2 linked regions of the Homo sapiens genome follow. The protein of the gene in region 2 interacts with the protein of the main gene of each other region in a pairwise test. Each region holds a gene or a part of one and is shown on either strand. Other genes may lie near its edges.

Region 1 (3,835 bases), on a different chromosome or scaffold from region 2:
CACACACACACACACACACATATCTGAACCTCTTTACTGCCAGTTGCATTTCTGTGTTTTTCAAAGGGCTGTTACGTTATCACAGTGGACTTTGACTTAACCCTCTGTGTCATAACCAACTATATGGAGTACGAGTAGAAGATGTGAAATTCCAACAATTGTAACTTGTGAATATGGCCTGTCAAAGAATAAAGGCTACAGTGTGAATAAAAGGGTATCCTTTCCCCAGTTTTGCTAAGTTATATGTTAACTCCTAAACTTTTAACAGATTTTAAAACTTGTTCATTTCTCAAAAATGTATTATCTGCTCTTTGCCAGGTATTCGCCTGGGCCCTGGGGCCACAGCACCTCCCCACATGAGTGGATAGGTAGGATTCCTACTCCCATAGAGTGAATGTTCCAGGAATCTGTTCACTAGAGAAGCCTGGAGGTGCCGCCTCATGGGATGTGCCCACTACAGCGCCTCGTACATTGTAGGCCCTCAGTAGACACTTGCTGCTGAATTAAGTTTGGGAGCAGGTCTGTCCTGTTAAACAGATTATTCAGCAAGTCTAGTGGGATTTTATGTGCAGGCATCTGTCCGTTTTTTAACATCCTCATTATTATTACTGAGCAAGGCTTATTTGGAGAGAACTGCTTAAAACTTTTTTTTTTTTTTTGAGGTGGAGTCTCGCTCTGTCCCCAGGCTGGAGTGCAGTGGCACGCTCTTGGCTCACTGCAATCTCCGCCTCCCGCGTTCAAGCCATTTTCCTGCCTCAGCCTCCCAAGTAGCTGGGATTACAGACACGTGCCACCACACCCAGCTAATTTTTGTATTTTTAGTAGAGACGGGGTTTCCCCATGTTAGCCAGGATGGTCTCAATCTCCTGACCTCGTGATTTACCCGCCTCGGCCTCCCAAAGTGCTGGGATTACAGGCGTGAACCACCGCACCTGGCTGGAAAACAACTTTTAATGATCCTGTTCTCAGTATCTTACAACTATAGAATGTTTTCCTTTAGCAGTAGTAAGCCATGCTCTGAATAGATTGAATCTTTGTATCAAAGTTTCCTAGGGTATCCGTTTTTAAATTGAAATTGCTGGAAATTTCTAACCTCAGTAAACTCTGGTCTACTATTCATACCTTGTTAGAAACATGTAAAGCTTTTGTGTAGGCAGGAGGAGAAAACCCTTTGCTGTTACAAAACTCTTTGATGAAGAGACTGTCTTTTGTCAGAGAGCTGAGTTGGCTCAGTAGGAATACTGACAATAATCTCTGTGGGTAAGATCTTTTCTGGGACAGCAGGAGCCTTCAGTGCAGGTAATGATGGTGCTTGCTTTGAAACATGCCCCTGAGAACAAGGTGGAAAGACTTCAGAGACTGGATTTTCTTTTAAACCAGCTGCTATTGTCATTTGGTGAGCTGTGCAAACTTAGAATAAGGATTCAGGTTTCTGTTATGTGGATCAGTAAATGAACTCTTAGTTTAAAGGAATCCTAAAATTGCAGGATGAGTACATCCTCCTTGTGTACAACTATTTTGCTGAATCACTGTTTGGAGGGTTATTAAAACTGACAACATCATTTTTCTTGATATTTATATTCAGGTTTTCTGCTTTCCCAATTATAGTAACATTGGCAACAGGAGTTAAACAGAAGCATCACTAAATGACGCATTTGACTTTGTAATAGGAAAAACTTTCAGCCTTACTGTTAGTGAATTACTCCTACAGACTACAGCTGCCAGTACTAATTTTTTGCCTAAAGCATAGAGCTGAGTATCTGTTTAAAGCTAACAGTTTACACCATTAAAAATATATTATTACCTGCAAAGACTCATTAGTGAAAGAATATTCAACATATGAAGGTATTGATATGTTGAAATTCTCAAGCCTGCAATAAATCTACAGTATTTTTAGTAGTTGCCTAAACCAGGCCAGTTCAATAGGATTTAGAGAAGACCCTCTTAATGAAAATTCATTTTGTAATCCTGTAGAGATGAACAGGTGTATAAGGCTTCGAAACTATATTATTTCCTTTTCTTTTGTGCCTTAATTAAAACTATAAGGGACATTCAATATTCTATTCCCTCCACTAATTATTTAGAAAACTTTCTTGGGCTTACTGCCAGCTTTTGGCCTCTTTTGGTTATGGAAGCCAGCTGCTACTCAACAGGAAATGAACTTTTTTTAAAGACAAAGTCCGGTGTCTTTAAGCTAACAGATGAAGTAATATCCTGTTATACAGTGTGACTTCACAGGAGCTTTCTTGTAGTTGGGACTTGTTAAAATTCTATCCTTAACAGCCTATAAATATTTAGGAGATCGAGACTTCAGGTTTCTGAGCCAGGCTGGTGCTTTGTTTTACTGGAAATAAGGTTTGAGATAAGGACAAGTCTCAAATTCTTTTTTGTTTGCTATCTACTAAAGAGTGCTGTCCTTGGTATCTCTTTCTGCAGGAGCAGGGAAGAGGTTCCTGGCTACTCTTAAGTAGCACAGGTAGTTCCATAACTGAATGAAAGTGGTGATAGTCTCAAGACAGTCTGGATTCTGGGAGAGGTTTCAGCCCAGTTGGGTTTTGTTTTTTTTCTTTTTTTTTTTTTTCCTGCTAAGAGACAAGGTCTTGCTATGTTGCCCATGCTGGTCTCGAACTCTTGGCCTCAAACAGTCCTCCTGCCTTGGCGTCCCAAAGTGCTGAGATTACAGGTGTGAGCCACCACACCCGGTCCTTGGCTCAGGCTTTGATTGCTGGTTAAGAGCATCTTTGGTGAATCTGAGCCTTCCCAGTGAGGAATTACCACTTCACACATTTAAGAAGGAAAGACTTAAGTAATACCTAGGTAATGTTTTTATACTTTGTCTTTAATACAGTGTGGTAGCTTCCATATGGGTCTATGTATACACATTACACACTCTGTGAGTACAAAATCATTTTTTCTGGAACATGTTGAGCCATACATAGTTCCTTTTTCATTTGGTGAAAACAGGGTATTAACTTGCCTGGGGTTGTATGTGCTTTCACTAGCAGAGCAGGCAATAAAAACCCAAATAGTTGAACTCTAATTTCTCATTGCAATCTGTGAAAACAAGTAGAAGAAATTAAGTACCTCAACAAGGGGAACATTTGTATTCTCTACCTTAAAGAAGCCTGCGGACCTCTCTTTCAATTGCCTTAAAACTCTGCAGATGAAGATAACAAAGAATCGTGATGAGAGTGAGAGTGAGAACCTGTTGACCTAAGAGTTTCTGTTTGATCTGTGACTCACCTTGGAGCTTGATTAGGTCAATTAACAGTTTTGTGCTTCAGGCTGTCTCATCTGAGAAACTGGACTAAATACCTTTAAAGATATAAAGACTAATGTCTCTAGAAAACAAAAAGTAGGCTGGGGGCAGTGGCTCATGCCTATAATCCCCAGCACTTGGGGAGGCCGCGGTGGGCGGATCACTTGAGGTCAGGATTTCGAGACCAGCCTGGCCAGCATAGTGAAACCCCATCTCTACTAACAATACAAAAATTAGCCAGGTGTGGTGGTGGGTGCCTGTAATCCCAGCTACTCAGGAGGCTGAGGCAGGAGAATCACTTGAATCCAGGAGGCAGAGGTTGCAGTGAGCCGAGATCGCACCACTGCCCTCCAGCCTGGGTGACAAGAGTGAGAGACTCCATCTCAAAAAAAATAAATAAATAATGACAAGAAAAAGACTAATGTCTCTTAAATGCTTTGAGCTATTTGTAAAAGTTCTGTGTTTTGTAAATACAAGTTATTTCATAGATTTAATGGAAGTCTTTATTTTTTATTTTTTTATTTTTGAGACAGGGCCTCACTGTATTTTTGGTAGAGATGTAATTTCACCATGTTG
Region 2 (3,835 bases):
AGGTTGCAGTGAGCAGTGAGCTGAGATTGCGCCACTGCACTCTAGCCTGGGCAACAGAGCGAGACTTTGTCTCAAAAAAAAAAAAAAAAAAAAAAAAAAAAGCTAAAATGCCTAAAAACACTTCCATCTCAAAAAATTTATAGAATATAATCACTAAACAATTTCACTTATTTGAATATTGTTTACTTCTGAAATATTCAAGAATAATGAATACTTTAAAAAAGTGATCTAAGTAAAAAACCCAAAATCTTATAGTATAATTTCTTTCACATGGTGGGAACAACAGATTCTGCATGAGAAGGCCGGCTCTACTGCTTATCAGCCACTGGATGCTGTCACTCATGTCATTTAACTTTTCTGCCTCCCTCACATGAGAGGCAAGTGGGGATAATAATGCATACTTCACAAATAAATCAAACCAAGTCAAATGTTAAAAATGCTCCAGGCCGGGCGTGGTGGCTCATGCCTGTAATCCCAGTACTTTGGGAGGTTGAGATGGGTGGATCACCTGAGCTCAGGAGTTCAGGACCAGCCTGACCAATATGGTGAAACCTGTCTCTACTAAAAATACAAAAAACTAGCCAGGCGTGGTGGCGTGTGCCTGTAGTTCCAGCTACTAGGGAGGCTGAGACAGAATTGCTTGAACCCAGGAGGCAGAGGTTGCAGTGAGCCGAGATTGCGCCACTGCACTCCAGCCTGGGCGATAGAGTGAGACTCCACCTTAAAACAAACAAAAACCTCTGTAAGCTGCAATATGCTTCACATGTGGCACCCATCCACAGTAACACCCACTACACAACCTATATCATTAATAAACAGGAATTTTGTTTGAAGGCCTGAAATGAGGTAATGTTAACTTAGATTACCAGGGGAGATAGGTAAGGCCAAAAACATACTTCATCTACCTAAAAGTTTACCTGCGCTATGTGCCTGGTAGTTTTCCCCCTTTTCTTTTTTTCTCAAAAGCTCTCTGCTCCCAAGATCCAGGACTAAAGCTATGGCTATTAATGCCATGTTTAGGTATATATTATGGGCTAGTGTGGAAACCCAGCCCCCAGTTACAATATGGTTTCTACGGGAAAATGTTTGGTTTTTTTTTTTTTGATAGGGAATCTTGCTGTCACCAGGCTGGAGTGCAGTGGCGCAATCTCGGTTCACTGCAACCTCCACCTCCTGGGTTCAAGCAATTCTCCTGTCTCAGCCTCCCAAGTAGCTGGGATTACAAGTGCGGCCACCATGCCCAGCTAATTTTTTTGTATTTTTAGTAGAGATGGGGTTTCACCATGTTGGCCAGGATGGTCTCGATCTCCTGACCTTGTGATCCGCTCACCTTGGCCTCCCAAAGTGCTGGGATTACAGGCATGAGCCACCGCCCAGCCCTTTCTGTTTTTTTAGATGTAGTCCTGCTTTGTTGCCCAGGCTGGACTTGAACTCCTTGGCTCAAGTAATCCTCCTGCCTCAACTTCCCAGGTAGCTGGGACTACAGGCATGTACCACACCCAGCTAAAGTGTCCCATATTTTAAAAATGAGTCTGGAAGACCCAGTATTCACAAACTGGAAATTGCCAGATTCATGCAAAGCTAGTAGATATTTAAGGCTATCAGTCTGACTTACCATACCAACAACGAGTTCCAAGGAATTATTTCCATTATTAAGAAACTCTACTTTTGACAGTCATTTGAGTCTTACCAAGGTAGGGCAATAACCCAGAGATATTATGTATTCAACACTTGGCATACATATGGCTCCTTTTTGATAATTTATACTAAGACTTTTATTAAATAAACTTTAACAATGGTTTAAGTCTAGTAACTTAAAAATTGGAAACAATGCAGACTAAATGATCATCTTTCTGATAGATTGTCAAAGCAGTTAAAGGATACTGAAAAGTAGCTCACATCAGGAACTCTTCAGCTTGTCATTTTTCTTTGGCTCTAACAGTACTTATATCTGCTTTTAATTTGCTGAGTTTGTAAAATACAGTGAATTTTTTGCCTATTTTAGTTCTGTATATTACCAAATATATTTCGGTCAATTCAACAAACACTTTAGAACACCCACAGTGGGCCAGGCCTGTAATAGGTGCTGAAAGTAAAAGATGATCTTGGTTCTCAAGGTCAGGTGGGAACAGTTTTGATATAGGTAAAACATAGGTGCATGTACATCCCCCTCCCATTAGAAACAACTACTTAAGGAGAAGTACAGAAGTTTGCTGGAATTATGACAAAGTGAAGAAAAAGGGTCATTCTAGTTACAAAATTACTTTCTAAATATAACATGATTTAAAAGTTTTGTCAATTGAGGCTGAAGAATTTTGTGTAAAGTATGAAAGACCTTAGGATTATGGGGATGTTAGACTTCTCAATAACCTGTAAAATATTTGGGGGTTAGATGATATAGTACATTAGGGGGCTGAAAATACATAGAAAATGGCTATAATCACTGCATTTTTAGTATGTGAACAATACAGGATCTTTTCCAGAAACCTTTGCTGCCAGAAATGATACTGACACATGCTGGGTCAATTTTTCAAGATGTTAACAGTGACACAAACCAAAAATATCTCTGCTCAAAAAAGTGTGATTTATTAACTGTAAGAGGCAAAAGCAAAGAGTGATTTTTACCTGTCATTTTAGTCAGGGGTTCCATCAGAGTCACTCCAATTCTGTCTATGGCAATAATACGATGCATATTGAGAAACTGCTTCAAAGATGGATGTATAACTTTTTGGCACAGGACAAGATCTACGTGGTCACTGATTAGCTGCCTTCCTAGGTTAAGCAGCTGGTCCAAGACTGCATTTTCAAGAGAAACCCCATAACTGACCACCACAGTTCCTTCTCCAGTGTCAGAAGTGTCTCCGGATAAAGTTGTACAAAAGAGTGCCACCTTGAGGGCAGTTGATTTTTTGATAGGTAATAGCCTCATTAATTGAACTTCTGACATTTCAATGAGTATCCCAGGTAATACAGTGGAATCTATAACTCTTTGACCTTTTAAAGGTACAATTAAACTCTTTCCTAAAATGATGTGGCCTTCAGCATTTTCTGGAATTGTAAGCAAAAAGGCTCTCAGGATCAAAGCACTGACATGCTCTGTTTCCTTTCTGGTGAGCATACAGGCAGGTTTACTTGTTAATATACTACGCACCAAACAAAGGAGGATCTGAGTACTACTAAAGTCCACTGGGATTCGACAACCACAGGTCTCAGACTTGAGATAACTGATGCAAAGACTCAAAAGATGTTTATTTAATCTAATGACAGTGGTGGGTGTCAAGCCTAATCTCTGAACATTTTCAATCAGGTTGCAGCAAAGAATAGCTGTGAATAAGCCACAATCACTGAAGCTTGACACATGATTCTGTATGGAGGCTGTCAGGATCTTTAAAATGGGATGTGTGACCAAAAGGTGACTGAGCAGAGCTGAGGACTGTGAGGTTGTACACACGTAACCTCCAAAGCCATTGTGCAGCTGCTTCAGCCTACCTGAGGGGCCATAGCATGATGTTACAATTCTTTTCAAGACAGAAAGTGTGGTCCTGACTCTCTCAGTTGTCAGTGGTTCACTCTTACACAATGATGGCTTCTTAGCTTCCAAACGAGACATCTTACTTCAGGTGGTAACTAGTGAAGACCGTTTTTATTTTGTAAACCACATTTTTCTATTTATTGCATTATCACGTTTTAACATTAAAAATTATTCTTTAGGAATTAAAGTATGAATATGCAGCATTGTGGCTATAAAATCAAAAAGTTCAATGTTTATGAAGCTAATCAGCATAGAATGATTTAATGACAAATTAGTAATTCCAAATATTTATTTTACTTCACT

Evidence for each region. The genes of interacting proteins can lie anywhere in the genome.
Region 1: the proteins of MKKS (region 2) and CDR2 interact in binary tests that used the Homo sapiens proteins (3 or more experiments, as listed by UniProt).

What each region holds. Positions count from the first base shown.
Region 1 is NC_000016.10:22,368,034-22,371,868, reverse strand, and holds part of CDR2 (cerebellar degeneration-related protein 2), read left to right. Parts: intron 1-3,835.
Region 2 is NC_000020.11:10,409,905-10,413,739, forward strand, and holds part of MKKS (molecular chaperone MKKS), read right to left. Parts: coding exon of another isoform or gene 3,831-3,835; 5' UTR 3,611-3,830; coding exon 2,626-3,610; intron 1-2,625. Other genes in the region: uncharacterized LOC128706666, read right to left, coding at 3,831-3,835. UniProt on the Homo sapiens protein: Probable molecular chaperone that assists the folding of proteins upon ATP hydrolysis. Plays a role in the assembly of BBSome, a complex involved in ciliogenesis regulating transports vesicles to the cilia.